Regions from separate parts of the Homo sapiens genome. Here region 1 is linked to region 2. The links come from fine-mapping of genetic effects on gene expression. Tissue or cell type: whole blood. Region 2 holds a variant in brackets; the other region holds the start of a gene. All regions are shown on one strand. Distances are from middle to middle. Region 1 holds the start of THADA (THADA armadillo repeat containing). Region 2 overlaps THADA (THADA armadillo repeat containing).

Region 1 (5,391 bases), 82 kb before region 2:
CCTGCCTGCCTAGTTTACCACAACAGCCTCACTGGGCTTCCTGCAGGCTCTACAGTCTTTTATTTTTTTTTCTGTTTTGTGACGGAGTCTCACTCTGCAGCTCAAGCTGGAGTGCAGTGGCGCAATGCTAGCTCACTGCAACCTCTGCCTCTGGGGCTCAAGCAATTCTCGTGCCTCAGCCTCCCGAGTAGCTGCGACTACAGGCACACAACATCATGCCCAGCTAATTTTTTTTTTGCATTTTTGTAGAGACGAGGTTTCACCATGTTCCCCAGGGTGGTCTTGAACTTCTGAGCTCAGGTGATCCACCCGCCTCAGCCTCCCAAAGCGTTGGGATTACAGGCGTGAGCCACCGCGTCCGACCTACAGTCTCTTCTTAACAAAGTAGCTCCAGTGATTATTTTGAAATGTACATTAGATGTTATTATTCTTTTGCTCAAAATCACTCCTCATTTCATGAAAGAGTCCATGAAATAATGTGAAAGCCTTATATAATCCAAAGCCCCTTGTCCCACTCCTTAGTATTTACCTTGCTTGGCTCCGGCCACTCTTGCCTCCTTGCTATTCTCCCAGCAGGCAAGCCCTGCCCTGGAAACTTTGTACTGGCTGTTCCCTCTGTATGGAAGGTTTCCCCTTCACCAAGTGTCTATGTCTCTTGGAAATCTTTACTCAGTGAGGCCTACCCTGATTACCCTATTTAAAGTTGCAATGTACCTCCCCTATACTCTCACTTTCCATTCCCCTATTTTTTCCATGGCGGTGTTAAATTGAACTAAATACCGCCTGAGAAAGCCTCTGCACTTCCATATTTGAGTCCTTGTGGATGAACCATAACCTAACTTAGTAGGTAGACAAGACTGAAAGCCTAATTTAGGAGTGTGCTTCTGTAACAATAGCTGAGTTTCAGCCAATCCCAGCAGCCATACTTCAACTATTCATACAATGCTTACTGTTCAAACTGTGTTCAGGTAAGGCAAATGCCAAGCTGTAACCCATCCAGCTGCTTCCGTACCTCACTTGCTTTTTGTACATCACTTTCCTTTCTTTGTCTGTAAATGTGCTCTGACCACGAGGCATCCCTGGAGTCTCTCTGAATCTGCTATGATTCTGGAGACTGCCCGATTTGAGAATCATTTTTCCCCTTGCTCAATTAAACCCTGTTAAGTTTAATTTGTCTGAAGTTTTAACAGTAGCTTCACCTTTCAACATATGTTTATTATGTTTGCTCCCTAGCCCACCTCTCGCTGTGCAGGGTGAAGAGTTGCAGTGTCTGCCAACAAAAAAGGGGTTCGGACCCACTGAGTTATATAATTAGTAGGTCTGAAACAATATACATATTTTAAAAAACATAAAACTTAAAAATGGTTAAAATGGTAAATTTTGCTGTGTATTTTACCATAATTTAGAAAAAAAGGAAATAAAATCTCACAGCTCCTGTAAAGTAGCATTTCAAGAAATTTTTACTTCAGTTATGTGTGAGTACTTCTACGTCCACAGTTTCAAAGTCTGCAATGTATTTCTTACTATGTCAGGGTCAAAAATACCAGAAAAAATTATGGTGGAGAACCGTCTGCACACACTCACCAGCTGACATGCACAACATAGTTCACAGCAGCAATGTTTAGAACAAAAACTGGAAATAATGCACATGTTAAGAGGCAGCAGGATGGATACATAATGAAGTATATTAAACAATGGAAAATTACGGTCCGGGCGCCATGGCTCACGCCTGTAATCCCAGCACTTTTGGAGACCGAGGCGGGCGAATCACGAGGTCAGGAGTTCAAGACCAGCATGAGCAACATGGTGAAACCCCGTCTCCACTAAAAAATACAAAAATTAGCTGAGCGTGGTGGCGCGCGCCTGTAATCCCGGTTACTTAGGAGGCTGAGGCAGGAGAATCACTTGAACCCGGGAGGCAGAGTTTGCAGTGAGCCGAGATCGCGCCACTGCACTCCAGCCTGGGCGAAGAGCACTACAGCCACCTGTAGGTGAATATGAAAAGCAATGCTGAAAGAAGCAAATTGCTGGAGAATACATACGCAATTCCAAAAGCTTCAAAATTGAACGAAACAAGATAGTGATACATACATTATGTGGTAAAGCTATAAAGAAAACCAAGGCAAGCTGATATAAAAAATTCAGAAAATAATTATTAAAAACTTAAGTCATTAACGTTTAGAGAACTGAAATGTCTCTATTTTCCAAATTAATACTCCTGATAATAGCATCAGGTCTTTCCTGATCTTGCCCACTGTCGCAGCTCCCAGTGACACCCCGTTATTGTATTTATTTTTCAAGGACTGAACCATCTGACAATTTGTATGTGCTGCGTAATACATGTATCCTCAGTAGGGGATAGCTTTCAAGGCTAGCGCTTGGCGACGCTCTGACAGTAGAGTTCATTATCTATTGAATGAATATATGCGCTTTGGCACACGTTGGTTCAGCACTACTCATTTTAGTCCGAATCCTTCTCGTGGCTTCCGTTCAGTCGCCGCCCAAACCCCTGCCCCATCTCGCAGGCTCTAAACTCCCTGGACTCGTTCCCGAGTCCCAGACGTAGTTTTCTCCTAGACTCTGCACTGGGCCAACAGAGTGGGAGAAAGGTGGAAGGTCTGGATTGGGAGAAAAGCGCTTCCCAGGCGTCCAAGCATGTGAAGAGAATGAGGTCTTTTCATTCAACAAGAGACCGTTGAATGAAGGCCCCTCAGCAACAAGGCCCGTCAGCCCTAACGCCATGAGGAACGCGCGGCGCTGACGGTACAGTGGCTGGTTAACTAAACCGGATTGCTACCGGCCACCCCGGTGACGTCACGACCTCCTCGAACTCCTGATTGGAGGAGCTGCGTTTGGTCAATTCTCGCGATGACTCCTCCAGGTTACCCCTCTCTCCCTCCCTTTGCCCTGACCCGGTAGTCGACCGTGGACCGCGCTGCGAGCCTCGGAGACGCCGTAGAAGGAGACCTGCTTCCGGGACTGGACCAGGCGCCTGCGACTCTTCTCAGACGCCGACGTGCACGAGGTTTGGCTCCCAGGTGTCCTGCCTGCCAGACCCGCGGTAGCTCGGCTCGGCCAGTTTTGCTAGGGCTGCCTGGCGAGCCACACCAATTCCCATCCTTTGGTATCGCCAGGATTCGGCGGCTGTGAAACTGATTTCCGGTCGCTAAGGTCTCCATGGAGACAGCACTTTAACCACTTTCTCCCACTGTCATTCCTCGACTCCACGTGGTTCAGAAATCGCCCAGAGAATGTTTGTGGGAGTCAGCCAGGAAGGTGTAGAGTGAAGCAGCGTTCTAAAGGGAAGCAGTAAGTGGGACCTAGGAGGAGTGTAATTTACTGGGCACCTTCTGGCCTTGCGGTAGACACGGGATTTACCCCCTTGGGGACCCTGGTTCTTCAGGACACACGTTTAGGCATCATTTGAGCAGGCATAATTACCGAGTCTGCTTTTGTGTAGCCCTCAGAATTGCAAGAGCAAATCCTCCTGCAAACTTGCTTACCTTTCACCAGAGAATAGTCTCCCTAGTTAGGTTTCCCAGTCTCTTCTGGCTTTGTACGATGGTCACTTTCTTAGGAAGCGTGCCTCTATTCCTCTAGATCTGACTATCCCTTTACAAATTATTCTGTTGTCGACACTTTCCTAGCTGCGTCCATTTTTGGTTAAGTGGTTGCTCACCTGCCATTACTGTATGGATTTCTTACTTCCCAAACAGACCATAGGTTCTTAAGATGTAGAATGTCACTTAGATGTAGAATGCATTTTAGGTACCAGATAGTCCACCTTCCTGCCCTTAAAGACATATATCCCTTCTAGAACATCTCTGACAAATGTTTGTTAATTAATTTGTTTATTCGTGAAGTGTTTGTTAAACACCTACTATGTGCCAGGCACTGGTTTGGAAATTGAGACTTGAAACATGAACAAAATAGATTAAAGTTGCTGCCTTCATTCAGTTTGCTACTAGGTGAGACAGACAATATACAAATTTACAAGTTAGGGTAATTTCTGGTACTAGTAAGTGCTATGAAGAAAATTAACGGAAATGGTGTCTACGTGTGTTGTATTGGTGAGATTTTAGATAGAGTGGTCATGGAAGGCTTTTAGAAGGTAATGTTGCAGCAGAAACATGAATGGTGAGAAGGAGTCAGTCTTGCAAAGATGTGGAATGAACATTAAGGGGCAGAGATACTGAGAAGTGTAAAGCCTCTTAGGTGGGAATAAGAGCATCAGGAAGTACAAAGCTCTTGAGATGGTGAAGAGGAGATTGGTTTGAGATGAAGAGTGGAGGAAGGCAGGGTCAGATTATTTAGGGCCTTGAAGGGCAAAATCTCAAGTATTTATTTATTTATTTATTTATTTATTTATTTGAGATGGAGTTTCGCTCTTGTCTCCCAGGCTGGAGTGCAGTGGCACGATCTCGGCTCACTGCAACCTCTGCCTCCTGGGTTCAAGCCATTCTCCTGCCTCAGCCTCCGGAGTAGCTGGGGTTATAGGCGCCTGCCACCACACCCGGCTAATTTTTGTATTTTTAGTTAGTGCAGACGGGGTTTCACCATGTTGGCCAGGCTGGTCTTGAACTCCTGACTTCAGGAGATCCACCCGCCTCGGCCTCCCAAAGTGCTGGGATTACAGGCACGAGCCCCCACTCCTGGCCTCAAGTTTGAATTTTATTCTAAGTGTATTTAGAAACCCTTGGAAAGTTTTAAGGAAGAGAGTAAGTAATTCAATTTGATGAGAGTTTTTTTTAAAGAGATTGCTTTGATGATTGTAAACAGAATGGGCTCTTTGGAGGTAAGTGTAGAAGTCAGGAGACCAGTTAGGGAGCTGTTTCAGGAGTCCAAGAGAAAATATTCAGTCATCTTCTCTTTGAATATTCCTGGTGTTGGAAAATTTCTTTGTTTAAAAGGTAGCCCAGTCCTTAGTGGGACCATAGAGCTTTTCCTTTGTATTGATCTGGAATCTGTTTCCCTGTAGCTTGTACTGACTTTTACTAATCTAATAGCAAGACAAGAAGTCTAAGGCTGGGCGCGGTGGCTCACGCCTGTAATCCCAGCACTTTGGGGGGCCGAGGTGGGTGGATCACGAGGTCAGGAGATCGAGACCATCCTGGCTAACATGATGAAACCCCGTCTCTACTAAAAATAGAAAAAATTAGCCGGGCGTGGTGGCGGGCGCCTGTAGTCCCAGCTACTCGGGAGGCTGAGGCAGGAGAATGGCCTGAACCCAGGAGGCTGAGCTTGCAGTGAGCGCAGATCGCGCCACTGCACTCCAGCATGGGCGAAGGAGCAAGACTCCGTCTCAAAAAAAAAAAAAAAAAAAAAGTCTGTAGTAGACAAATAAATCTATTCCCTTTTTCTCCAAAACAGTCTAGCAGCTGTTTTAAGGCT
Region 2 (5,391 bases):
GTATTCACGGCAGAGAGAATGTCAGGTGAAAAAGTCCTGAGAGGCTTGGGCTTAGGGTAGGTATTTAAGGAACATCAGGTAAACCAATTATGACTGGAGTAGTGTGAGCATAGGAAAGAGTTGTAGATGAGATCAGAGAAGTTGTGAGGACTAGACAGCCTAAGACATTGTGTAAGAACTTTGGCTTTTACTCTGAGTAAAATGGGGAGCCATTGGAGTGTTTGTGAACAGAGGAGTGACATGATCTCATCTTTTAAAAGGATTACTCTTACTTCTGTGTTGATAATAGACTATAATAGTGAAAACAGAAAGACCGATTAGTTACAATATTGCTATACTACAGAAAAGAGATAGTGATGACTTGGAAAGTGGTGGAGGAAGTAAAACGTGATCTGAATCTGGATGTAACGTGAAGATAGAGCAGGCAAGGTTTGTTGACAGATTAGATTTGCTATTTGAGAGAGAGAGCATAACTACAAAGTTTTTGGCTTGAGCCCCTGAAGAGATCGATTTGTTATTCTTTTATTAGGATGGGCAAGACTGTGGGTAGAGTAGGTTTTTGGAGGAAGATCAGGAGTTTAGTTTGGGGCATGTTAAGTTTGGCATGTCTAGTAGACACCCCATTGAAACTACTTTAGGTGTACTTTGTTGAAGTACATCCTTTAGAATTTCTTTTGGTGAGAGTCTCTGGAAGGCAGACTTAATCTTTGTATATTTCAGATTGTCTTTTTCTTACCTATGCTTTTGAATGTACTTTAACGGGGTATACAATTCTGGTGGACAGTTGTTTTCCTTCACTGCTTTTGTTATTGCCAGTGAGAAACTTGTGTTTGGTATAATTGATGTTCCTTTGTAGATCTCCAGTTTTTTTTCCTTTAAATCTCCTGTGGCTTGTAAGTTTTTTTATTAATCACAATTTTGCTATGCTTTTTCCAGGTATGGAACTATCGTTATGTATATACACACACATACTTTATGGTTTTTTCATTCTGTATACTGTTTTGGGTAAATTTCCCAGAAAACTATCTTCTAAGTCACGAATTCGTTAGAATTCATCTTATCTGTTTTATATGTGTGTGTGTATATATAGTTTATATATATTATATATAAAATATTATATATTATATATTATATATTATATATAAAATATTATATATTATATTATATATTATATATAAAATATTATATATTACATATTATATATTATATATAATATATTATATATTATATATTATATATTATATATAATATATTATATATTATATATTATATATAATATATTATATATTATATATTATATATAATATATTATATATAATATATAATATATTATATATAATATATAAAATATATTATATATTATATATAAAATATATTATATATAAAATATATTATATATAATATATATATTTATATATATTATATATAAAATATATTATATATAAAATATATATATTTATATATATTATATATAAAATATATAATATATATAATATTATATATTATATATAAAATGTTATATATTATATATAAAATATTATATATTATATATAAAATATACGTAAAATATATATTATACATAAAATATATATTATACATAAAATATATATTATACATATTATACATAAAATATATATTGTACATATTATTATATATAAAATATATATTGTACATATTATTATATATAAAATATATATTGTACATATTATTATATATAAAATATATATTATACATATTATATATAAAATATTATATATTATACATATTATATATAATATATATTTATATATATATTATATATATTATATATAATATAATATATTATATATTATTATATACAATATATATATTATATATAAAATATACATATATATAAAATATATAAAATATATATAAAATATACATATATAAAATATACATATATGTTATGTATATTATTTATATTGTGTATAAAATATACATATTATGTATATTATATATTATATATAAAATATACGTATATATTATGTATATTATATATATTATATATTATATATAT[A/T]TTTTTTAAGACAGGGTCTCACTCTGTCACCCAGGCTGGAGTGCCTTGGCATGATCTCAGCTCACTGCAACCTCTGCCTCTTGGGCTCAAGCGATCCTCCCACCTCAGCCTCCCAAGTAGCTGAGACTACAGGCAAGTGCCACCATGCCCAGCTAATTTTTGTATTTTTTTGTAGAGATAGTGTTTCACCATGTTGCCCAGGCTGGTCTCAAACTCCAGAGCTCACGTGATCTGCCTGCCTCGTCCTTCCAAAGTGCTGGGATTACAGGCGTGAGCCACCGTGCTTGGCTGAAAGTACACTTTTATTTCTAGTCTTTTTTATTTTTATACATGCCTGTTCTTATTTCACTACGGCTTGTTTTTCATGATTTCTTGTTCTTTATTTTTTTTTTTTTTAAGGGACAGTGTCTCACTGTGTCATCCACACTGGAGTCTAGTGGTGTCATCATAACTCACTGTAGCCCTGAATTCCTGGGCTCAAGTGATCTTCCTGCTTTAGCCTCCTGAGTTGCTGAGACTACAGATGTGAGCCACCATGCCCAGTTAACTCTTCTTAAATAGAAGTTATTCCCTTATTTATCACTTCAGTATCCTAAACATAGTTATTTTAAGGTTTTTGTCAGACTGCTCCATAAAATTAGTTTCATATAGAGTGAATGTGTGTTATTACTGATTTTTTTAGGTTGTCTTTCTTAATATAAAATTTATTTCTATATTTTGAATTTTGGCTCACTGGCTATGATGGGAGCCTTTTGTTTACTGATCTCTTTCTAGGCTCTTTCCTCTCTATCAGAGGAACTAGATTAGGTAGTGGTATTTTGGGTGTCCCCCTTCACAGTGAAATTGGGGATATCATAGATCTAGTCACTGAGTTAGTAGTCAGCCTGATTCAGAGGCCCCCTGTGCCCTTGGCTTTTCCTACTGCTACAGCCTCAGGCAGCTCTGGCAGTAGCCCTTTTTCAGGTTCTTCTCAAAAGAGATGAGGCTGCTGAAATTCTTTGGCTGCCACTACTGCTTCTAAATCTGTAACTCTTGGGTCTCTGGTATCAGCACACTCACTACTTTGCATTTCTGTTCATTTTTACCCAGATGATTATCTTGCTTTTGGACTCAGCTGGTTTTGGGGTTTCTATTTGTATATTTTGCATATTGTTAACATTAACTTGCATTGTAGGGGGATGTCCTGTCAAAATGGAAACTCAGCTGTTTCATCTCTATCATTTCAATTGAAACTTTTAATACTTGCTTTTCTCATAATAACCGATGATTTTAGAAAATGACCATTAAGAACTTATTAGACATAAGAACAAACTCAATCCTTCCAAAAACTGTCATTTTATAGAAGAGCAAAGTGAGAAAATGGAGAAATTTAGTAAATTGCCTTGGATTGTACAGCTACTAGGTAGCAGAGAAAGGATTCTAAACCAGATAACACGGGTCCATAATCTGTGTTCCTAACCACTGTGATATATTCCCTCTCATCTGTTAGTTGGGAAAAATAACTTTCTCATAGTTTGTTCCAAGAATGAAGTAAGAGCAGCTGTGAAAAGCCTGGTGTCGTACCAGACGTGTAATAGACATCCAACGAATATTTGTTTTTCTTTCCTTTGTGGCAGGCAAATATATTTCCAGTATGATAGTTTAAATAAAACTTGTGGCCGGGTGCGGTGGCTCACGCCTGTAATCCCAGCACTTTGGGAGGCCGAGGCAGGCGGATCACCTGAGGTTGGGAGTTCGAGATCAGCCCGACCAACATGGGGAAACCCCATCTCTACTAAAAATACAAAGTTAGCTGGGCGTGGTGGCCCATGCCTGTAATCCCAGCTACTCAGGAGGCTGAGGCAGGAGAATCACTTGAATCTGGGAGGCGGAGGTTGCAGTGAGGCAAGATCGCGCCATTGCACTCCAACCTGGGCAAGAAGAGTGAAATTTCGTCTCAAAAACAAAACAAAACAAAAACAAACAAACAAAAAACTTGTAAGTAGATTTTGTTTAAAATGTAGTATGTTTAATTTTAGTAAAAAGGGAGGGTGGAAGTTCCATTATTGGACCAAATTCCCTTGTATGGCTTTGAGGTCAGGACTTGCCTGGGAGAGGTGCAGAGCTGAGAAGCAAGGGAATCAGAGGAATGGGAACCGGTGGTAGAGTTCACACTGGAAACCAGATAAGTAAAGAATTCTGCGTAAAAGCTGGTTTGATGCTGGGGAATTCCAGAGCAGAATAAGAAGGTTTGGACTAGATGGTAGGAGCTGGTGCCTTGAGCATTTCCCAGAGCTCATGAGGTTCCTGGGTCCATGGTGCAGTGGGCAGAGATGGCTCTATCGATGGCATTTTGCCAGCCTTGACCTTGTAGAGCATTCTTCTGGCCTCTGTTTTCAAATTCTGCAAATTAACAAGGAGCATTTGGTTCTTAGTATGCAATACTCAAGGGAATAAATAGGCCCAGTTCACTGTTTACAGTTATACTAGCCAAGTGTTTAAATTAGGGAATTGCCTCTGGGGCCTTGACCTAGCTCTTTCCCCAGTCATCTCATCTTTTACTTCCTCAGCTCTCATATATGGACCTTCCACCATTCGACCTACATGTCCTTCAAAGTCTAGTTCAGATTCCAGCCCTTCCATGACACTGTACTGATCCCATGTACGCCTAATACCTAGTAGTTGCTTCAAGTTAATTGGAAGTTTAGAGAAAGGAAAAGTCCTCGTGAGATGCAGTATTTGGAGGAAGTTTCATCAGTTTGGATGAATAGGGATATGTGTGGAGACCATAAACGAATGCTTAGTTGGGAATATGAGGTGTGTGTGTTGTATGTTAGTATGAGAACCAGCAAAAAACAGTCTTACTAGACCAGAGGAGTTTGTGTAGGAACTTGGAAAAGTTAAGGTTAGATTTAAGTAGGAGGGTTGGGTCCAGGTCATAGGCAACCTTTCAAGCTAGGAGAGTTTGACAAAGTTAGAAGAGGAGTTAGATGATTTGGTTAATAGTCAAGAGCCACTGAAAGTTCATGCAGGGAAGGGTGATGCATAGTGAGATGTTCTACTCTCATTCCAGACCTGCCTTCTTGGAGTGGTTGGTTTTGCCACAGCCTCTGCGGGCTCACTCAGGGAGGCCCAGGGGAGGCCCACTGACAGTTGAGGAGCATTATTGAACTAGTATTTAGTGTATTTGTATTTCAGCACACTTAGGAAATTAAGGAAATAGGAAAGTACCTCTCATGTCCTGCAGTTCGTTCTTCCCCTTAGTTTTTCCTACGTAGCAAATCCCCTACAGGAGACGACCTTAGACTGTAGCATTATCTATAAGCTGGTTTTAACTTTCCCATGGTTCTAGGAAGAAAATGCAAGTATAAATT

What was found.
Region 1: THADA starts here. The variant in region 2 is fine-mapped to the expression of THADA in whole blood (INTERVAL, PIP above 0.99).

The regions. Positions count from the first base shown.
Region 1 is chr2:43,593,565-43,598,955 of GRCh38, reverse strand. THADA (THADA armadillo repeat containing) reads left to right here and starts at 2,918. Exons shown (of 38, transcript NM_022065.5): 1 at 2,918-3,025.
Region 2 is chr2:43,511,105-43,516,495 of GRCh38, reverse strand. The region is part of intron 22 of THADA (THADA armadillo repeat containing); the gene reads left to right. Among named protein-coding and RNA genes, the nearest start is that of THADA, 82 kb to the left of the region's middle. RefSeq lists enhancers at 3,008-3,057, 3,068-3,117. The variant A/T (reference allele first, on the strand shown) is at 2,039.